4 linked regions of the Homo sapiens genome follow. The protein of the gene in region 2 interacts with the protein of the main gene of each other region in a pairwise test. Each region holds a gene or a part of one and is shown on either strand. Other genes may lie near its edges. The genes, in order: TAX1BP1, TRAPPC6A, GOLGA6A and RAB3IP.

The links.
Region 1: the proteins of TRAPPC6A (region 2) and TAX1BP1 interact in binary tests that used the Homo sapiens proteins (3 or more experiments, as listed by UniProt).
Region 3: the proteins of TRAPPC6A (region 2) and GOLGA6A interact in binary tests that used the Homo sapiens proteins (3 or more experiments, as listed by UniProt).
Region 4: the proteins of TRAPPC6A (region 2) and RAB3IP interact in binary tests that used the Homo sapiens proteins (3 or more experiments, as listed by UniProt).

Annotation. Positions count from the first base shown.
Region 1 is NC_000007.14:27,743,123-27,750,164, reverse strand, and holds part of TAX1BP1 (tax1-binding protein 1), read right to left. Parts: intron 1,648-7,042; 5' UTR 1,641-1,647; coding exon 1,479-1,640; intron 1-1,478.
Region 2 is NC_000019.10:45,162,411-45,168,257, forward strand, and holds the end of TRAPPC6A (trafficking protein particle complex subunit 6A), read right to left. Parts: intron 2,785-5,847; coding exon 2,717-2,784; intron 2,561-2,716; coding exon 2,443-2,560; intron 1,838-2,442; coding exon 1,754-1,837; intron 1,600-1,753; coding exon 1,506-1,599; exon of another isoform or gene 1,500-1,505; intron 814-1,499; coding exon 782-813; 3' UTR 523-781; downstream 1-522. UniProt on the Homo sapiens protein: May play a role in vesicular transport during the biogenesis of melanosomes.
Region 3 is NC_000015.10:74,069,339-74,072,574, forward strand, and holds the end of GOLGA6A (golgin subfamily A member 6A), read right to left. Parts: intron 2,972-3,236; coding exon 2,880-2,971; intron 2,319-2,879; coding exon 2,216-2,318; intron 2,133-2,215; coding exon 2,029-2,132; intron 1,940-2,028; coding exon 1,786-1,939; intron 1,700-1,785; coding exon 1,572-1,699; 3' UTR 519-1,571; downstream 1-518.
Region 4 is NC_000012.12:69,741,827-69,748,868, reverse strand, and holds part of RAB3IP (rab-3A-interacting protein isoform alpha 1), read right to left. Parts: intron 1-7,042. UniProt on the Homo sapiens protein: Guanine nucleotide exchange factor (GEF) which may activate RAB8A and RAB8B. Promotes the exchange of GDP to GTP, converting inactive GDP-bound Rab proteins into their active GTP-bound form.

The sequences.
Region 1 (7,042 bases), on a different chromosome or scaffold from region 2:
CAGAAAACATCAGTTCTCAATCAGTATCTTTAACTTGATACCAGTATCTCCCATAAAATCGAAACTACTACTGAGGCCAGGTGCGGTGGCTCACACCTGTAATCCCAGCACTTTGGGAGGCTGGGACAGGAGGATCACTTAAGCCTAGGAAGTTAAAACCAGCCTAGGCAACATAGTGAGACCCTGTCTCTACAAAAAATTTTAAAAATTAGCCAGGCGTGGTGTTGTGTCTATAATCCCAGCTATTTGGAAGGCTGCGGGGAAAGGATCACTTGAGCCCAGGAGGTCAGGTTGCAGTAAGCCACTATCCCACCACTGCACTCCAGCCTGAGTGATAGAATAAGACCCTGTCTCAAAAAATAAGAAATAAAATTTAAAAACTACTCCTAATTTCATAAAATTGTTACAATGAATGTTTCTCCATTTTGGGATTTGACAAGCCTAAAAAACTGACACAAAAAGTAAACAGTAAATAACTATTGTGTTGTATTCAGAAACATCAAGAAATGAGGAATTCAAAGAAAGGAACTAAGTCATTAAATGCCAAAATTGTTTTGTCCAAATGTTTTTCTGCCTTCCCGTCAGGCTGGACTTTTACTTCTAGACACTTTCAATGTGCCTAATTTCTAGCAGCTATTCATTTCTTTCTTCCTTGTTGTTTAACTTTATACAGATTAGACAATCAAAATTTCAAGCCCATAAAAATCTTAACTAAAATAAAACAAACTGATTCTGAGGAAGACTACAGAATAACACAGGAGAAAAGTGAATGTGTTTTACTGTTTGGACATTCGTGACATTATTTTGACTGCTCAGAGGACATTCTTATGTTTTGGTTTTCCACTACATTTTGAAGAGTTAAAATTGCCAGAAAAAGTCCTGCACAGTGAGGTGTACCACTGTAATGATCACCTTCATTTTCAAGAAAGTATTATACAAAATCACTGGTAAAATATAAGAACTAGAACTCCTGCCATCAAAGAGTTTACTATTCAGTCATGTTAAACAGAATACTTTAAAACTGTGTAATACAAACAGAATACTCTTAAAACTGTGTAATACAATCTGAGCAATATTTAAGCCATGCAGGACAGTAGAAGGGATAATAACATGGCTGTCAAGCTGTATAAAATTAATTTCAAATGACTGGAAAAAATGGTAAATAATATAAGAACCCAAAGAAAAAGATCTTTTTTTATTGCAGGTAATGAATGGAGAAAATAGGAAAAGAAGATTCTGAAAAAATTTTCACAAGTCCTTAAGTGAAGGTAAACTTTCTGATCAGGGAGAGGAAAATCTGGTGAAATGGAGTTCCCAACATCCATTTTATCTACTCCCCACTGTTAAATATTTCATGGTGATGTTTACAAAAATGAGTCTTAATGCAGAGTTAAGGCAAGTAAAAGCTACTTATCAATCTGTTTTAAAAGAAAATTTTAAGTGTTTACATGGAGAACATATTCAGAAAGCTTTCTTACCTTGAATATACCAACCCAATCTTTTGGATGTGGATGAATATATGGAGTTAAGGTGTAATGACATTCCAGGTGTGCATTAGGAAGGTAACTCTTGGCCACATTTTGAAAGATGACATGGGCAAAGTTGGAAGTCTGCAATGGGACTTCTTGAAAGGATGTCATTGTGAATCTGAAACAAGTAATTCATACAAGTTAAATTATACCAACTAAGAATAAACTTATGCCTTCAGAAAATACATAATATTTAATATAAGTTTCATGAATATTTGCATGTCATAATTAAGAAAATATATACTTTGTAAATACTGGAACTTCTTAAAAATTGATTAAATATAAAAATACAGACAAACTGGAAAAATAACTAAAACCCATTTGGCTCAGAAAGTTATATGGGCATTTAAAAGTTAAAAAACCAAAACCAAAAATTAACTCTCCTGGAAAGCCTAGCCCTCTGCTTCTATTTAAATCAAAAGCAAATGAACCAGAGGTGTTTTTGTGCACACGCTGCCAATATAAACCTGCTGGCTCCTAGTAACAAACACTAAGAAACAGAAACAAGAACAGTTAAAAGTCAGTATTTTACTGGCTATGGGTCAATTAACATTTCCTTCCTATGTAGAACCCTTGGGCTTCATCATTCTCCTCCCTAACCTAGCCCATCCCATTCATCTCTTCCCCTCTCCCTAGGTTTTGGGGTCCTATAACTAAACCTGACGCTAACATCTCTGTGCCTACATTCCTGCCCTTCTAATCCCCTGGACCAGCATTTCTCAACCCTGGTTACACATTAGAATCATTAGGGGCCTTTAAAAAAAAAAAATAGATGACAACAACTTTCTGGGATTGGGGCCTGGGAGTGTGTGCATGTGTGTCTGTGGGTGTGTATACGAATATACATAGCCCTGCCCCTACATCGCCCCAAGTAATCTCAATCCTGTATGCAACCAGAAAAGAGAACCACTATCCAACAACTTCTACCTCTCACTCATTTCCACAGATCCCAGACCCAGCCTGTCTTCTTGGGCTTCTGTTACAAGCTTGTTCAAATCTCTCAAACCATGTAAAATCTTAGCTGGTCTACTTGAAATGGCTCAGCCTATTTGTTCTTCTCCACCTATAACAAACCTATCATTTCATCATAGGTCCAATCAATGATCCTACCTCAACTTCTAGTATTCACGTACCCTTTCCACATGTTTACTGATTAAAATAAACTTATATTTAAAAATAAAAATAAAAGTGTAGTGTTAATAAAATACACACTGTTGAAAATCTCTTAGAGATTCATGAACGCTCACTGGCTTAGTAAACACCAAGCACTGGATAGCAGATGAATGGTGAAAGCAGATTATAAAAACTGCAAGATCCAAATGTTTTCCCTATTTTGTGCTCTACTTTTGAGAAAACAGAAACAAATGAGGATTTACCCAAAAAAGCAATCTGTAGAGTTTGTCACAGGCTCCGTACAATCACTAATTCTACAATACACATAAGAAACTATGACTGTCCTGACTGCACTTGCTTGAGTCATTAAAACAGGCATCTCTGTAATAATGGGGAAAACTGGGGCAAGGTTTTTGCTAACCAAATTAATCTAATTTACTTCACAAATCAATGAAGTTTCTACAGAGCAAGCACAGCAGTAAGGCTCTACTCATATTTTAGCCATTAGTAAGAAGGCTTATTGCTAAGATCTAAAACAGTGTGCTTTTACAACTGTTTCTTTTGCTGACCTGTTTGAAATACTAAGGCAAATTTTTAAAGTTTTGTAATAATAAGCACTTTAAAAAATATCAACTTTCTTCTTGTGTCCCCTCTGCTTCTGTTATGGCCAAAGTCCTGCTTTACTGAATATAATGGATATCCCAAAAAGAGACTGTCAATCATGAACCTGGAAACCACTGTAGAGTATCAGGCTAGTTGTCAGCCTCTCCCTACCTGAGGTTTGCAAGCATTCCAAGATAAAGAGTATATTCAGTAGCAATCCCCCTTTACCTCTGCACTAATAAAGGGACTTTGCTACCAGCAACCATATTTCATGGAAAGACTTAACTATGAATACTCTCTACCTGGTAACCTAAAGCCATCAGAAAAATGAACAGGTAGCATTTACAAACACTGGAGAACTCTGCCTAAAATAACTGAAGAGTTTTATTATTTTGTTTCTTTGAGTTGTCTGAGCTAATTTGGGCTCCCAGGGAGGTCATGATACTAATGAAGTCATTAATGATTATCTCAAGTCACTGGCTTCACAAAGGAAAAAAAAAAAAACACCAATTCCAGTTCTTTAAAAAAAAAAGAAAAAAAAAAAACTCACTACTGGTTACAAGACACCAACAAAAGAAACTATAGCTAAATCAACAGAACCAACATCTATTAGATACAACTACCAAAACTGAATTAAGAGAATAATATTTTTCTATGAAGTGAGTGAATAGTCACGCTTCCTTTAAGAAAGATATTCAGTAAGAAGGAAATAAACTAGCTTAGAATAAACGTCCCATGTTTTTAATCAAAAGCTGATTAAGGATAATACTTTTTTCTTAAAATTTAACATATCATTTCCTAAAATAAATTAAACCAACAAAGCTGTAACTATTTTTTTTATAAAACAAGGCAAAAGTGTTTCAACTTCTGTTAACCTCAATTATAACAGTTTTTTAAAAACCCACAATCCAACCTTATACTTTTAGTTCACTGAAGTTTTTGAGGTACAAAATAGCACATAGGTATACATATATGTATTTGTATATGTTTACAAATGCATCAAAAGGAACTCAAGAAGTATACACTATAGAGTTAATAGTCTTATAAGGGATGTGTGTAAAAAGAAGACTTAAGGACCTTAAATTTTACATCAATTTATTGTTTGAATTTTTACAAGTATATATAAATGTATTATTTCTATTGTTTTAAATAGCCCTATTAACAAGAAATTCCATTTTTAAACCCTCCCCTGAATTTCACATTTTCTAATAGAAAACACTAGTATTTCACTTTAAAATATAGTATTCACAATGGTTACAAGTCTGAAAAGTAAAATAATTTGTGATTATCCTATTAATGGCCTTCATTAATCTCTCTCCAACACTCCAATCTTTTTAAAATTTCATTGCTATAATTATAGAAATATTTTACAAAAGTCATTCCAGTACCTTGTCATTTTTTACTCTTATTAAATTACAATATAGCTACTAATCATTTAAAAAGTTTACATGGATGAATGCAATCAAATATAATTATGTCATTATCAACCCATTTTAAATAATAAAATTTCTAATTCCCACATAGTTCCTCTGGTTCACTCCTCCTACAGATAACAGACTTAGGCAAGCTTACAAAAATGTTGGAATTCACTGAGAATGTCAAGGTCGCACGGGAGTGGAGAAATAATATGCAAAGTCACTGCATCACCTTGTGGTAATGCCTGGGAAGTGTAGCTTCACTAACATCCTGAGAAAAAGTACAAACCTCCTCTCAGTTGGAGAGAAGTACACTCCCTACACAAAAAGGAAAGTAGAAGCAAGCAGCTTTACCATGTCAAATTCTGATTCCCCTTCTCTAAAGTGCACCTCTACAAACAGGAGTATAGTAAGTAGGCAAGCCAAGGATAAGTATGAAACGTCCAGTCAACAATTAAGGGGCCAGACACATTTGGCTGGGAAACAAAATCAGAAATGCTTATACATGCTGGCTACAGTGCCCTCTTCCAGGTTTCCTACTACACTTCCCCAAGTTCCAATGCCTCTAGAATTTCTTTATGTGTGTTATGCTGTAAACTGTATATTATAAAGTCTTTGGTCTAAATTCCAATTTTATTATTTTGCGAATGCATTAATGTCTATAAAAAAGATAAATAATATATAGTGGGCACTCAGTTATGTATACAGCTAAAATAAACATGGGGTGGGGGCAGGGAAGCATTTCAATGTTATCTTTACTTACTCCTCTTGTAACTTTTTCAAGCCCAAAGCAGATTTGACTTTTGTGGTAGTATTTTTCCAGTGGTTCCCAATACTTGTTTTACTTTAGCCCAAAAATGTAAGCCTTAGTGAACTTACTGAAAAATAGACCATAGTAAGAACTTCTGTACATTAAACATATGAAGCCAAATTAAGCTTTTTAATTTAGATAAATACTAAATATAATTTGCCAGTCCTAACAATTAGAATTCAAAAATAAGGTAATTTTGTTATGTGTGATAATATAATTATGGTGATTCTGTGTTTTTCTAGTCTTTATCATTTAAAGATACTAAACTAGGCCGGGTGCGGTGGCTCACGCCTGTAATCCCAGCACTTTGGGAGGCCGAGGCGGGCGGATCACGAGTTCAGGAGATCGAGACCATCCTGGCTAACACGGTGAAAACCCATCTCTACTAAAAATACAAAAAATTAGCCGGGCGAGGTGGCAGGCGCCTGTAGTCCCAGCTACTCGGGAGGCTGAGGCAGGAGAATGGCGTGAACCCTGGGGGGCGGAGCCTGCAGTGAGCTGAGATCACGCCATTGCACTCCAGCCTGGGTGACAGCGAGACTCCGTCTCAAAAATAAAAAATAAATAAAAATAAAAAATAAAGATACTAGGCCGGGCGCGGTGGCTCACGCCTGTAATCCCAGCACTTTGGGAGGCCGAGGCGGGTGGATCATGAGGTCAGGAGATCGAGACCATCCTGGCTAACAAGGTGAAACCCCGTCTCTACTAAAAATACAAAAAATTAGCCGGGCGCGGTGGCGGGCGCCTGTAGTCCCAGCTACTCGGGAGGCTGAGGCAGGAGAATGGCGTGAACCCGGGAAGCGGAGCTTGCAGTGAGCCGAGATTGCGCCACTGCAGTCCGCAGTCCGACCTGGGCGACAGAGCGAGACTCCGTCTCAAAAAAAAAAAAAAAAAAAAAAAAAAAAAAAAAAAAAAAAAAAAAAAAATAAAGATACTAAACTAACTGTAAGTGAAATGTCTTGATGTCTAAGATTTGCTTTAAAAACTCCAGGGGAAAAAATTAATGTTAGAGGGGGTAATAAAACAAGATTAGTAAAGTGTCGGTTCATTTTACTGTTCATTCTCCTTTGTGTATGTTTGAAAATTTCTGTAATAGTAAAACCAAAGCAAATAAAGAAATGAAACAGATTAGTAACACTCCACATATGACCCACTGTAGCAGAAACACTGCATTTTAGAATATGAACGCTTTGTACCCTTAGAAGTGTTGTAATTCAGGTAATGGTTGATAGAGTTACTGAAAGTTTTTCACATCTTCAGCTAAAAAACCTTTAGAATTATCTCCAAACTTTAATCCGATAGGACACACAAACATATGAAAGGAAAAAATGTCCAGCATTCAAATAGTTTCCAATTATTCACACTGTGGCTCAAAAAAAGAAAGACTAACAACTCTCAACAGACCTCTGCTCCCAAAAAATGTAATCAGCAATTTTTCTAGGAGGCAACAGCAAAAGCCCCAGTCTATTAATTTGCACCCTTGCAGACATCCCTATTTCCAGAATCCTTTACACCTGAGTGCCAAGACATTCCGCCCAGGTATCACCCGCACCACTTTTATTTACTTTTTA
Region 2 (5,847 bases):
GCCTTGGTGGGCAGCTCTGAGCCTGGGGCACTTACCCATGTCAGGCAGCGGGCGGCGAAGCCCAGGAGTCCCCAGATGCTACAGATGCGAGCGGGGTGGGAGGGGGCAGCATAAGGGCCACTCTGCCCAGGGACGGGCAGCAGGAGTGCGTAGGGGCCGCGTGTGTCCATGGGGGTGTCTGGCCTCCCCCTACCCCATGCATCCCCAGCCCTGGCAGCCCCAGCCCGACCTGGCCTACACTCCGGGCACTCCCAGCCCTGCTCCCCAGGAAGACGCTCCGTTCTGTGCACATCGCCGGGCAGAGGGCAGCCCCAGACTTGTTGACTTGGCAGAGGTGCCAGTAAGGCCGCCCATGCCGGAGGCCAGCATCCCTCTGCCAGGAGCACGGGGAGGGAGGGAGTGGAGGGGGACGTGGCAGGGGAGGGAAGGTCTGAGGGGCATGGGAGCCAGAGAGGGTACCCACTCCCCTGCAGGACCTGTGACAGTCGGTCCACAGATCCTCCCCCACTGCTCTGAGTCAGATTCCACACACACAGCCTTTATTGAGCAGCTACTGGGCAGTGACGCTGCCGAGGCGGGAATCCCACCACAGTCCTGACCGCAGCTGGGACCCCTTTGCCTCCTCTGACACCCCCACCTCAATTTGATACCCACTTCCTGAGCAAATGTGACCCCTAGGGCCTGGGATTCCCAAGACCACCCCGAAATGCAGCGGCCCCACCGTCTCCTGAGGCCGGTGAGGCCAGGGGCAGCAGTGCGGCTCAGCAGGTGCGAGGCAGGCTTAGGATTTCGGAATCACCACCTGGAACTTACCTGGAAGAGAAGGCCTGGCTTAGGCTTGAGGATGGGATGGGGGAGGCAGAGGGCACCTGGACGGCTCTTAGGCGCTCACCCCCGTCCTGCACTGACACCCCAGTGGCTAGGTTGGGCTGTTTCCTCCCGCCCACGGGGCCGCATCCCTGAGCTGTGTGAGTAACCAGGAGCATGAGGGCCACGGATGTGGCCCCAGGGAAGCGCCCGGCACGGGCTTCTGTGGTATGCATTGCTCGGTCCTACCCCACGGGGGCCCCGGGGGCCCCCATGAGTGGGCCTGGGGAACCGGCAGAGGCAAAATAACTGAAGGTGGGGGAGGTGGTGGGGCAGGCTGTCCCCAGGCAGGAATGGGGCTCCAGCTTGTCTGACAGAGGACACCCAGTCAGGCAGGCTGCAAGTTCCCTGGAGCCTGCCGTCGCCCCCATCGAAGGATCAGTGAGGATAACTTCTATTGCGTCCACCTCGGCTCCCATGCTGGGAAACGATGTTCAAAACCGCCAGACAGTTCTCTCTGCAGGGCTGGCGACGTCACGGAGCCAGGGGCACAGATGGGCCTGCACCAGCCGTGTGGCTGAGCAGGTGACTTAAAACTGGGCCTGCCTCCCAGGCACACACACAGGAGTGGGGCTGGAACTCTGAAGCCCCCAGCAACTCAAGGGATGAGAAGAATCCCCCCACCCCCCATGACTCACAGACGGGCAGGGCTGCCACGGAGGCGGTGACCACGCTCTCAATGCCCAGGGTATAGAGGGCGCCGCGCAGGAGGCCGCAGGTGAAGGCCAGGAACTGAGGAGGGAACACAGACCAGCATGGGAAGAGAGGGGAGGCCAGCACCCGAGGTCTGGGGCACCCCTTAGGCCTGGGGAAAGGCCTGATGTGGGATGGGGCTGGGTAAACAGGAGGAAGGGAGGTGTGGACAAGGCCCCAGCTCCCCCCATACCTTGGGTGCTTCCTCCAGATACTGCAGGCCAGAGGCCATCGGGAGGAGGAGGGGGAAGCTGTTGTCTTGCAGGACGTAGGTCCCCTGGGGGAGAGGAGAGGCTGGTGGGTGGGGTCGGGGCCTGTACATTTGAAGCGCAGGGAGGGTAAGCAGGAACCCAGGTCTTAGATTGGGCTGAGGTTGGGAAGGCCCCCTTCCTGAGAACCACTGGAGTCACAGCCTTGGCCTCCAGTGCTCTGGTAGGGCCCAGGGCTTCCAAACTTGGAGTGGGTGCCTGTGCCCTGGGGAGTGTGGGTCCTGCCCTCGCCTCCCAGGGTTGTGCAGAAAAGCTGGGGACCCGGCCCAGGAAGATGCAGAAGGGCAGGTACAGCCTGGGTGTCACTGGGGGACTAGACCAGCTTGGGACAAGCAGCATCACACTGGGGGTAGGGCAGGCAGCCACCAGGGGCTTTCTGCCCATGCATGGCTCACTCCTGGTAGGCTGGAGAAGTTCCGGAAACACCCCCTATGCCCCAGCGCAGCCTCCTGGCTTCCCTTAGAGGATCAGACAGAGCAAGAGCTGCGGCCGCCTGTGGGAAAGCTCTGGGCGGGTCCCGGCAGCCGCTGCTCTGGCGCCGGGGGATTCCCCTCCCACTCTCTTGGTCTTGCCCTCAGGAGGAAGCTGGACGGGCAGGCCGGGGTGCTCCCACCTGGTGATTGGTGCGCAGGCTGTCCATCTGCTTCTGGAACACCGCCACCCACAGGTCTTTGCACAAGAACTTGAGGACATCCAGCTCCTCCCTGAAGGCCAGCGTCTCCCGGGGCAGCCTGGTGGGGCAGTACCAAGCTGAGGCCGTGGGGCCAGGCCAGGAAGAGGGAGGAAGACAGGCCCGACTCCTGCATGGAGCAATGCAACCCTCCCCGCCCGGGGCCTGCCCAGCCCTGCCAGCCAGGCTGGGGGAGAGCAGGAGGGGCCGCGCTCACCTCTCGCCTAGAGCCTGGCCCACACGGAACCCCATACCCTCCAGGACCGACAGGCTCATCTTCTGTCCCTAGAAGGCCAGGGGAGAGATGCTCAGGGGCCCTTAGCCACCACGAACCCGGGGCCACCCAGGGGGGGACCTGCCAGGGGACCCAAAGACCAACTTGCTGGTGCTCGTCAGTTCAGGGGTGAGCAGGGAGGGGCTCTGGCACAGCCCGGCCAGGGCAGGGGCAGGCCTCTAGGGTGCTGGGGCTCCCTCACCCACCTCTGCAGACCTTGCAGGCTCTCTGGATCCCCAGATCATCAGCCCCCAAGAACCAGCTCCCCCTTCCCTCAGGAACAATGGGGGTCTTCCCCAGGCTCCCTTCCTCCTCCATGACTTTTCCTGATAACCCCCATGACAGGCTGCACGTGCTTTCAGCGCGAACCCTCACAATGCCCTGGGAAGTGGGCGCTGCGACTCCACCAAGATGCTCCAGGTGACCTGCCCAAGGGCTGGAGGCTGGGCCACAGGAAAGGGGGCTGTGGAAGTCAACCATGATCATCATGCCTTATAATATTGGCCAAGATCCCTGGGGAACACGTGGAAGCTCGGGACAGGCAGATCTTCGTTTGGGTGCTCGAAAAGGACAGTGGCTGCCATGTAGTGTCTGGAGGGTAGGCCAGGGTCCATACAGGAGGGGACTGTGCTGGCAGAGGCAGGCCCCAGGTAGGAGGGCTGCACTCGGTGTCTGTCCACGTGCCTGTGTGTGTGGAGGGCATGGCTGGAGGAGAGGAGATGCTCATGGATTTTTTTTTTTTTAAGAGATGGAGTCTAGCTTCATTGCCCAGGCTGGAATGCAGTGGCCCAATCTCTGACTCACTGCAACCTCCGCCTCCCGGGTTCTAGCAATTCTCCTGCCTCAGCCTCCAGAGTAGCTGGGACTACAGGGATACGCCACCACACCCTACTAATTTTTTGTATTTCATTAGAGACAGGGTTTCACTGTGTTGCCCAGGCTGGTCTCGAACTCCTCAGCTCAGGCAATCTGCCCGCCTCGGCCTTCCAAAGTGCTGGGATTACAGGCGTGAGCCACCGCGCCTGGCGAGTTTTCTTTTTTGGAGACAGAGTCTCACTCTGTTGCCTAGGTAGAGTGCAGTGGTGCAATGCTGGCTCACTGCAACCTCCGCCTCCCGGGTTCAAACAATTCTCCTGCCTCAGCCTCCCGAGTAGCTGGGATTACAGGCCTGTGTGCCACCACACCCGGCTAATTTTTGTATTTTTGGTAGAGATGGGGTTTCACCATGTTGGCCAGGCTGGTCTCAAACTCCTAGCCTCAAGTGATCCGCCCGCCTTGGCCTCCCAAAGTGCTGGGATTACAGGCAAAAGCCACTGCACCTGGCCATGGATCTTTTTTTTTTTTTTTTTCATTCGGGTGTTTTGCTGCAAGCAGAGGAAGGGAGGAGGCCCAGACTGGGGGGCACCAGAAATCCCAGGACGGCTGGGGCGTGAGGCGCCAGGTTTTTCAGAGAAAGCCTGGCAGAGCAGAAGTGGGGGAACAGAGGCGGCAGGTGTGCAGCCCTGAGCTGAAGGAAGCTCACCCTCCCGCTGGCTGCTCTCAGGAGCCTGCAGTCACCAGGCCTGAGCCCTGCAGCCCTCCCTCTCCTGCCCTTGACCCCCACCTTCCCTTGGGAATGGCAGCTACCGCCTCCTCCCTCCAGGGCTGCACCATCAGCGCAGCCATCCGAATGGGGATGCGAATTCTCTGCTTGGCTCCAGCCCTGGAGCGGGTCTCCCAGCCTGGAGAGCGTGTCCGAGGAAGGCTTCTTGCAGCCTGCGGGCCCAGCTGCCTCCATCCCTCCCTCACCCTCTCCTCTGCCCCCTGAGGACATTCGCTCAGACTTCTGAGCCTTTGTACCGACTTCCTTCCCTTCCTCCCTCCCAGCTTGCGTCCCCAGCCCTGCCCACTGCACACTGTCCCTGGATGAGGACACAGCTCTGTGAAGGTGGGGACCCAGGCTGACCAATTCACATCCGGCCTTCAGCAGCCAACACAGAGCTTGGCATGTGGGTGGTGCTTAACAGACTGGCTGATGAGACAACGTGCATCAACAAAGGACACCGTAAGTCCTTACCTAATGCTGTCAACAGGCTCTTGGAAACTATGGCTTTAAGCAAAATGACATATGATGAAACCAATTTCACGCAGGTTAATTAACATAAACAAGAGTGAAGTTCCAATGCCATATTTCTGGTACAAACACATCACCAAACTTCTAAATAAGGATGAAAACACTTGAAATATTAAACACTGAAATAAATGTGAGCTATACATACGTTTAAGAAAGATTAGGCCGGGCGCAGTGGCTCACTCCTGTAATTCCAGCACTTTGGGAGGTCGGAGTTTCGCTCTTGTTGCCCAGGCTGGAGTGCAACGGCGCGATCTCAGCTCACCACAACCTCTGCCTCCCGGGTTCAAGTGAATCTCCTGCCTCAGCCTCCCCAGTAGCTGGGATTACAGGCATGAGCCACCACGCCCGGTTAATTTTGTATTTTTAGTAGAGACAGGGTTTCTTCTCTTTTGGCCAGGCGGGTCTCGAACTCCCAACCTCAGGTGATCTGCCCACCTCGGCCTCCCAAAGTGCTGGGATTACAGGCGTGGGCCATCGCGCCCAGCTGAGTCCAGGAGTTCGAGTCCAGCCTGGTCGACATGGCGAAACCCCTTCTCTACAAAAAATACAAAAGTTAGCCAGGTGTGGTGGCATGCACCCGTGTCCCAGCTACTTGGGAAGCTGAGGCAGGAGGATCATCTGAGCCCAGGAGGTCGCTACTGCAGTGAGCCATGATCATGCCACTGTACTGCAGCCCAGGCAACAGCAAGACCCTGTCTTTTTTTTTTTTTTTTTTTTTTTTTTTGAGACAGAGTCTCGCCCTGTCGCCCAGGCTGGAGTGCAGTGGCGCAATCTCGGCTCACTGCAAGCTCCGCCTCCCGGGTTCACGCCATTCTCCTGCCTCAGCCTCCTGAGTAGCTGGCACTATAGGCACCCGCCACCACGCCCAGCTAATTTTTTTGTATTTTTAGCAGGGACGGGGTTTCACCATGTTAGCCAGGATGGTCTTGATCTCCTGACCTCGTGATTCACCCACCTCGGC
Region 3 (3,236 bases), on a different chromosome or scaffold from region 2:
GGTATAAAAACATATTTCACTCTTTGTGAAGAACTTTGTGAGGAAACATAAGTCTGTCATTGTATAGACACTTTTTCTCATAATACTTGGACATTCACAAACATTAGATTGCACTGCAGCTTGTAAACATTTTAAGTTGCATAAACTTCGCCTTGATTTTCATGTGTAGTATAATACTGTCTACTAAAACTCCTTTTTGTTTCAACTAAGTACTCTCACATATATTGGTTTATAATAATGGTTGTTATTATTTTTAAAGTGTTTTCCATTCAAAGAAAAGAAGTAAATTCCTATGTCAGAGTAACTAATGTGGCTGAAGAATAGGTATTAGCCAGAGAGGTCTAGATGATAAAATCAATCTTCTAGCCTCAAAGAAGCTCCATGAACATAGAGGAAGGCCAGGTGTCACACAGCTTTCCTTCACTCGAATTCATTCTTGACTAGAGCCTGTATGCCTCTTCCAGGGACATTTAAACTCTTAAAGGATTTCTTATGATCTTCACTAAATACCTTAAGAAGAATGCCAACCAGTGCCCTTTTGTGTACTGGGACATATACTCGTGATTAAAACAGGTAACATGAACTCTGACTTTAAAATGTATTGTAGATATAAATGCTCTAAGCTAGAAAAGGTTTTCCACATCCACAGTCAATGATGGGAGCCTTTCATTCCTCAGAAATAATCCCTTTTTAGGTCATCAAGAAAGGGTACAACTGCTGCAGCTCATGATGCAATATCTTCATGAGCCCAGAGCACATACAAATCCTAAGGGAACTACCATAGTACAGCGCTCATTCTTGGCACCAGAACAAATGAAACACACTCTATCCTGCACACACCTGCCAGAGCAGGCCACTTTCCTCTTCTGTGAGATTTAAAAAGCTCCCCAAAATGTTATTACTCCCATCCCCAATACACAGAAAATAGGGAAAAGGCTGTTTCCAGTTCTTGGCCTTTAAACAACTCTAAATGTCAGTACTCACAGTGGCATATTACAAAGTAATAAACAGTGCTCAATTGAGGGCAAACCACATATTGAGCTAATGAAGAGCTCACTGTGGTTAGGATTCGATCAAACGTAATAGCAGAACATAAGCACATTTTATCTGAATTCTGGAATGAATATACATGCTGCAATAACATTAAAAAAGCATGGCAGCCTGTTCCAAACCAGCCAGAATAGTTTTGTGCAAATTAGTGGGTCTTTGTGTGTTTGAATTCCCACCACCTAAGGGCAAACTCGATATGCATACTAATGACCTACAATTATCAAATTAAAAATAAAAATGCTAAAGGATGCCAGAAAGAACATCAGGGAAAGACCAACTCTCCCTTAACTTTTTACAAATAAATTTAAACGGTAAATTAGAAACACAAATAAATGTGAGTGGCTCTAGCATTCAAATGGAGTAAATGAATTGTGTAGGAGATGAACCCCGTAACTTTTTGTTGTTGTTGTTGTTTTAAATTTCTTGACCAGCTCTTAGAAGATGATGATGTTTATCTCCCTGTTCTCGGCTGCCTGGTAGAAGAATGGCACGCAGGGTTTGCTGGGCAAGCCTGGGTGCTCCTAGGTGTCCTGCATGACAGGAGACAGCTGCACGATCTGCTGTACAGTGGGGTTGTCATGGGGAGAACCCTCCCTGGCCGCTCCTGGTGCAGGCTCCACGTTGTTGTCCAGGCTCACTTCATAAAAAACTTCGGAGAGAGGGAGGCGGGGGTCTGAGCACAGTGCGAGCCTCCCCTGCCCCTGCCTGCCCACCCCGCCTGAGAGCTCTACTCACCATCCTGCTCACCGGCAGCCCCAAGTTCCTGGGGGGCTGGGGCCCCTGGAGTGGGCTCATCAGCAGGGTTCTGGGCAGCGATGAGGAATTTGCCATGCCCCTCATGGTTGCCCACAAGGGGCAACACCAACTCTTGCAGCTCCAGCAGCTTCACCTGAAGGGAGGGGTGCTCAGCTCCCACCCTGGAGCCTGCACCAGCGCCCATGCCCACCCCCAACCCCGCAGAGATGTTGCACGCCCTACCTTCATCTCCTCCTCCTTCTGGGCCAGCCTGATGACATCCTCCATCTCCTGGTGCCGCGTGTTTGGCACTGCCCCCTGGCTTTCATATACGGTGAAGGACTCTCCTGTGAGAGGACACAGCTCAGACACTAGGGTCCCTCCGACGGCCCTGCAGCTCCCCGTGCCCGTGCCCTGGCCTCCCGCTCACTCATGCCGTCTGTCACTCCAGAAGGCTGGACGAATCCAAGCTCTCGTCTCTCCACCTGCTCCGTCCCGTCCGCCTTCTCCTTCGGGAGGTCCATAAAGCTGCTCTGGAGCCAAAATAATGGGGTCACATCTCGGGAGTGACCTGTTCTGCCCCGCCCCCACTTTTCTTGGCCCATGCCAGGACTCACTCCCTTTCAGCTTCACCATGGCCTCCTTCAGGGCCCGGTAGCTCTCCCCACACACAAACTCACCCCCACTCCCTGGGGCTGGGGCCTCTGCCTCTGGCTCCTTCCAGGCGAAGGCCAACAGATGAGCCAGGTGCAGGCAGCACAGCCTTCACACCTTCCGCTGCCCACATAGCCGTGCCTGCTCCTCCTGGGAACTGGCTCCAGCAGAGGTGAAAAATGCCACTTGAAGGCAAGAGGTGAGTATTCTTGTAGGGGCATAGACAGAACAAATGAGGCAGGGAGGTGGAGAACAACCCCTTCCCTTGGGGCCTCAGAGAGTGCACCTGTTGGTCACAGGTGACAAAGTGTCTGACCACTGGCTCCCGGAAGGGGTGAGGGGCCAGAGCAATCAGAAGGTGGGAAAACCAAGAGCATAAGGGGGTCTGGGAGGGACCACAGAGGAAGGTGGCAAAGCGGGGCAGGGAAAGTCAGGCTCACCGTGGCCTCCCGGCTCTCCAGGTCCTCTGGGATGTTTGGCGTGGGCCGAGGCGCCTCCTCCTCCTCACTGTCCAGATGTTGTCCTCCATCTCCTGTAGGGAGGTGGCCAGAGGGGTCCTCAGACAACCCAACAAGGGAGGTACTGTGGGCCCACCTCTGTCCCCACCCTGACTGTGTAACCCTGAGCCAGCCTCTCCCCAGAGGGGAGTGAGCTGCTGTTCTTTATTTTTCCTTTTAAGAACCAAGATCTTGCTATATTGCCCAGGCACAGTCCCACTACCGGTCGGTGCGGGAGTCCTGACCTGCTCCCTTTCTGATCTGGTCCAGTTCATTCATCCTTAGGCAACCTGGTGGCCC
Region 4 (7,042 bases), on a different chromosome or scaffold from region 2:
GGTCTGAAAATCTTTTGCCCTTTAAATACATAGAAGCTTTAAGATTTATTTCACATACGTCTTTATAAGAGTAAAATAAACTACTATTTTTAAGCAGTAGTATCTTTCGCATTAAGCAATGAGTGATTCAAAAAGAACTAATTTCAACTGATTATCCCAATTAGTAAATTAAACTTGTCAAGGATCATGACCAATATGTAAAAAAGATGATCACATTAAATTCTTATGGGTGAATCACCAACACAACTTGGCTGGCCTTATTACTGAGCTCCAGGTAATAAAGCAGACTGCAGACCACAAGAAAAAGTTGATCAAAACAATTTGCTTCTGATCCCTAATATGCATTTCCTGTTAATTTTTCTTTCTCGAAATCAGTACTATCACAGCAAAAACAACAGCCAATCTTTACTGAAGGTTAACTATGTTGTCAGATAGTGGTGCTAAGAATTTCATACATATTAACTCATTTAATAAATGCCTAGAAAGATCCTAATAACTTATGAAATTTACTTTTTCTAATTAAAGTGAATTTTTAAAATGTTTCTTGAAAACAAAAGCCATCCCTAGGACAACTCAAGAAATCAGAATTAATGGGAAAATATTTTCAATGAAACATCTGAAGAACATGAATAAAATGCATATACATATTTTAAATGAAATCTAGCAACTTGATTTATATCAGTAGTCCAAAAGAAAAAATAAAATCCATTTTTCCACAAAAAGCACATTCCCCTAATTTGGACTTACCTTGACAAATGGGAAACATAGAATTTTAATTTTAGAAAAAAAAAAAAAAACTAAAGCTGTGATTTTTATCTTTTTTCATATCAATTTAATATATGTGAAAATTAAATAATTTGAATTCTATGTTTACTAAAATTCCTCAAAGCACTACACTCAGAAAGTAAATCATTTCCAACAAAGGAGGTAATATGGCAACACAGCAGAGTAGAAGCATCAGTACCTGAAGAAGAAAGCTAAGGCTCCTGATCAAGCTCTGAGATCTATCTATGAACCTGGGCAGGTAACTTATCTGAGCCCAAATATCTTCATCTATTTCAGTGTAGAATTGGATCAAATAATCCTGGTAGATAAAGGAATGTACTTGTCTACTAGAAGAAAAGCCAACAGGGTAACTTAACCAGTATTCACTATCTCATGAAATAGCTTGTACTCTGGAATCAGTCTCAAATCTTGGCTTCACCAGTTACTAATAAAGTGACCTGAAGATCTAAGTCTCAATTTCTCATCTAAAAATGGAGATGACAGGTCAGGCACAGTGGTTCTTGTAATCTCAGAACTTTGGAAGGCCAAGACAGGACGGTTGCTTGTGCCCAAGATGTTTAAGCAACAACCAAAAGCAACATAGCGAGACCCCATCTCTACAAAAAATTTAAAAATTAGCAGAGTGTGGTGGCATACGCCTGTGGTCCCAGCTACTCCTGAGCCAGGAAGGTTGAGGCTATAGCGAACTGTGATTGTGCCACTGCACTCCAGCCTGAGCAACAGAGAAAGATCCTCTCTCTCTCTCTCTCTCACACACACACACACACACACACACACACACACACACACGAAAGGGCAAGGGGAGAAAACTGTACCTATCTCCTAAGGTAGTCATGAGAATTAAAGAGCTTAGCACCATATCTGGCACTTACCAATTAAGACTGGCTCTTACTATTATAATCATCTCTAGGACATTTCCTAATACTGGCCAAATATTTTGATCATATTGTATCAGCACAAGCACTATCACTAAGAACAAAAAGCAATGATTGTTGAGTTTGGGTTTAAAAGCTTATTGTTTTGAGTGATTTTCCTCAAAAAAAGTAAACATCTATAAATCCTGTAGTATAATTTTGTTTTACTTGTATTATCACAATAATAGAAATTAAATATTCCAAGACATGTCAAAAGAAAAGGTTTAAGATTATGTAAGCACTATTTTCCTCTTTCAATTTATTCACAGACAGTTGTGGAAGGGGGGCAGGGAGGAAAGTCCAGATGCTTTTTAAATTCCCAAATGACTTCTTAATTTAACATGAATTATGAAAGAAACAGTTTCTGAGATTAAAAATGAGACTGCTACTTCAATAGCATATAATGAATTGAACTGTTATAAATTCCATGAATTAGTTACAAATTCCATCACTTCTTTAAAAACCTTCAACATTTATTATACATATTAAATACATTTATTTCATACATATATGTGATAAATTATATTTATTCTTGTTGGAATGGAAGGATGATTGCCAGCTTCAACACCTCCGGGCAAATCCTGATACTAAGTGCTAAGAATACAGATACAAATGGACCAAAGAGATGGCACACAGCCTCTACGAGCCACGGCATGATTATTCTGAGGGTTGTGGGGAGGGAAGAGGGAAGAGGAGAATGTCTCAAAGAGAAGTAAAATATAAGTCAGATTTTCAGTGCTGAATACAAGTCCAGTAGATGGGCAAGGGGAATAGGATAGGACAGTCAGGGAATAAGGGTCTGGCACTAACAAAACTAACAAAGGAGACAGTAACAGAAAAGCAGGCTGGAGAGGCAGACTGTGACAGACCATTAAAAGCCTTCTTTAAAAGAGAAAATGTTGCTTAAAGTTTATCCTGAAGAGATGGTGAGATCTACATTTTAGAAAGTATAGATGTATTGTAATGTAGTCATTTAAAAATGACTCCCAAGGCAATGAGAACTTCACTGGAGACTAGAGGCTGGTTAAACGATTACTGTCTGATCTAATGCCAAGGTCATGCACTGGGAATGAGGGGATGGAGGCATATATACGTATGGAAAACATTCAGAACAGCTTCATTTATATTTATTCACAAACACACAATTATTCCAGTTAATCTTCAGAGCATTCATTTGAAATGGTTCTTATCCCTACTTTACAGATATATAAAAAAAAGAGGCTGAGAGAGATTAATTTTGTCAAATACACAAAAAGTAACAGAGCTAGTATTCAAACTCTGGTGTGTCTGACTCTAACACCTAACTCCACTACATCTGAGATACACTTAGAAGCTGAAATGGATAGGGAGTAGGGAGATGGGAATAAAGGTTAAAGCACAGCAAAGGATCTCTAAGAAGTGAACAATCCTGGGTGCAGTAAACCACCATGGCACGTGTATACCTATGTAACAAACCTGCATGTTCTGCACATGGTATCCCAGAACTTAAAGTTTAAAAAAAAAGAAGTGAACAATCCAAACAGAATAATAATGTTTAATCTCTGAACCCTTCTCTTACTTTCACAAAGACAAAACTGAAGTTTCTCTAAAGCACTGCTATTGAAATGAGCATTTGCTATTGCTTTGTGTTCTATTATTTTCCCCTATATTATTTTTGTTATCATTTCCTCCTCTGTTTTGTTACTATGCCAGAATTTAATACTTATTCAGCTCCTTACAGGACTTGGAAAAAAAAAAACAGCACATAAATCAAAATAAACAGAAACTTGAATTTACTATAGTACCCATATTCCTGTGTATTTTTTTAAAAAGTGTAGATATTTTATACCAAGGAATTAGTGTTAATTTTTGAAAATTTGTAATAATAAAAGCAGGAAATGTAGATTAAAATGAAAAAATAAATAAAGAACAAAGTTTGTAAAAGTACTGCAGTTAACTGCTCTTATCTTTGGGAAATACTGAAATACCTACAGGTGAAATTACACAGGACTTGCAATTTGTTTCAAAATAATATAGAAGTGGGAGAAGTGGATGGATGAGGACTGATCACTGTTGATAGTTACTGGGCTACATGATGGAAACTTTTAGGTTCATTATACTATTGTGTCTACTTACCTTATTTGAAACTCTCCATAATTTATAGTGCTCTCAAAATAAAAAGGAAAGTTCAAAATTTATTCAAATACTGTATAATAAAGGAGGAAAAAACAAAACAAGTATATATATAAAATCATTTTTTCATTAGCTTTCATAATAATTTTAAAGTTGGCTTCCCAAACTAGCATTTTAGTTATGACAAAAAAAATCACATTTATCTTTTAAGAAGCATTCTATGTTTATAAATGCAAATGTAATTAATAGCCCAAGGGCAAAATTACTCAAATGGTCAATCAGGCTACACAATTTTCCCATTTTTATTATAATAGATCACAAATGAATTCCCACTAATTCCACAATACTTTTTTTTTTTTTTTTTTGAGATGCAGTCTCGCTCTGTCGCCCAGGCTGGAGTGCAGTGGCACAATCTCGGCTCACTGCAACATCTGTCTCCTGAATAGCTGGGATTACAGGCGCCTGCCACCACACCCAGCTAATTTTTTGTATTTTTAGTAGAGATGGGGTTTTGCCATGTTGACCAGGCTTGTCTCGAACTCCTGACCTCAAGTAACTGTCTGCCTCAACCTCCCAAGTGCTGGGACTACAGGTGTGAGCCACCATGCCCGGCCTAATTCCACAACACTTCAATGTACAACCTGACATGTGTAGAGATGTTAGTTATTGCAGTGTGTTATGTTGACAGTTTTCAGAAAATGTTCTGAACTTATGAGCTAATATTATATTTAATTACAAATAATTATTTGTAATAATACAATGAGCTAATATTTAATTACAAATATTTATTTGTAATTAAATATTTATTTAAATTAACAGAACACCGCATGTTCTCACTCATAAGTGGGAGATGAACAATGAGAACACACGGACACAGGGAGGGGAATATCACACACCAGGGCCTGTGGGGGAGTGGCGGGCTAGGGGAGGGATAGCATTAGGAGAAATACCTAAGGTAGATGATGGGTTGACCGGTGCAGCAAACCACCATGGCACGTGTATACCTATGTAACAAACCTGCACATTCTGCACATGTATCCCAGAACTTAAAAGTATAATTTTTTAAAAAAATCATTTTCCAAATTTCTTTTTCTCAATAATGGAAGCTTCATTTTACATATTCTCTTAAGAATATATGCCAACTAAACATTCAACAGGTGCTGAAATACGCACTGACTAAATAAATAAACAAGAGTCTTTAGAGAAGGAATGAATAGCAAAGCGGTAAAGAGTGGAGACAGTTATTCAGGCTACATTTTTGCTGAAAAAGATAGAAATGAAACAGTAAATACTTTGCGAGAGTATCAAAACTGGAGAAATTGAAGTTTGAGAAAACCTGAGCATTTTAACAGACTAACTTCAGAAAACCTTCCTTCTAGTTCAGATTCTGTCACTGACAAGCTGTGTGAACTGACGCAAGTCATTTAATCTCTCTAAGGTTCAGTTTTGACATCTATAATGGTAGTGATATTATCTCCCCTGCCTACATTTGAGAAAATCAAATGGCATATCAATGTAAAAATGTATACATTGTAAAGCACAACATAAATGTATGATTTTATAAAGATCTAAGAAAGAAAAAAATGTAATGGGGGAAATAGCAAAAGCATACTGAGGGGTTTGTCTTACAAATCAGAAGGTATCTTTATTTATCTTAGGTAAAAGGAAAGAAAGGGAAAACTAGTCTTTATGAGGCATGTAGTTCAAATATGATTCTTTTCCCCACAGGGAATTGATACAAATTTGCTTATTGTTTTTTCAAACTTATTTTGGTTTTTCTTTTATACTTTATCCTTATCTGACAACCAGATGCTCCCAAACAAATATTCAATACTATTACTTTTATCTGGGCATATCAAATTACAATTCACTTATTTAAGTGGTTCTAAGCTATCATCTATATGCTCCTTTATGCTCATAGGGCATTCTCACATTCTTGAATAGTTTCTTCATACTAAGCTGTCAATTCATATACTTATTTGTGTATGTATCCATACCCCTCAGAGGAATTTCATCAACTGCCATTATGATTATATTTACAATCCTACTGTTAACGACAAGCATCAAATCTTTCATGAACTTGAACTATTTGAATAATTTTCATTCTTTTTCCTCTAAGTAATATCAGTTTACGGCTATAGTTATCTAATTTCGTGTTGCCCTATATTCTAAGATAAATCAGATTACTTTTTCCACTTTTCTCTAACCATGACTATGTACGATGTAAGCTTATAAAACTACCTCATTTAGTGGTAAGTTGAAAAGGAAAGCAGAAGGGAAAATAGAGATAGCAAGTTAATGCTCCCAGTTGTATAAATATCTTCCTCTTCCTTCCTTTGTCCCTTCATTTCTCAATGTTCATTTCAATTTCTACTGCTAGAGCAGCTTCAAAACATCCTAACATTCTTCAACTGATCATCCATCACCAAACACAGCACAGTACTTACCTGGCCCGATGTTAAAGCTATAAAATGAGGTAAGCCCTACTCTCGAAGCACTTGTAGACTAGAGGAAGAGACCACCTTGCCAATAAACATGTTTCTAGGGCCCTAGAAACAATTACAAATACAACACAAATATCAAAGTTCATAAATACCAAAAAAGAGGTACTCAGTATTATAAAAGCATAAAATTTTTAAAAAGAGTACCATCTGGTACAACTAAGGATAGTAGCATAAAAAAGGAGAAACAAGCTAGAAAGCAGTTTACAAAAGCTCAGATATTTTGTTTTTAGGATATCAAATGCGTAGTAACCAATTTACTATCCTTTGATGAACTGCATCTTAATCAGAATTATATCGGAAAAAAGTTTAGTGTGAAAAAGCGTACTCCCTTGGAATATCTTCAAAGCTTTCCCTCATTACCTCAATGCACAAATATCTCTACCCACTATCCATCTGTCCTTCCTCTCCACTACTCAACTATCCTAGCACTTTGTCTTAGTTGACATTCATTAAAATATGTAAAGTGCGTTCTACATTTTGAAGAACTTATAAAAGATATGGGAATGATTATAAGGCCCTACCTTCCATATTCCTTAAGAACAGTTTCCTTTAACCCCTACTGTGACTTGCAGAGTAGATGCTCAATGAGTATTTGATTTAAAAAAATCTCTGGTGACACAATGAGAATTACATATTACATTAACATTACGTATCTCATAAAAGCTAAATTACAAAGTTCTTCAGCATTATAAGCTACACATAAAGAAGTGATAATGTAGTGATTAT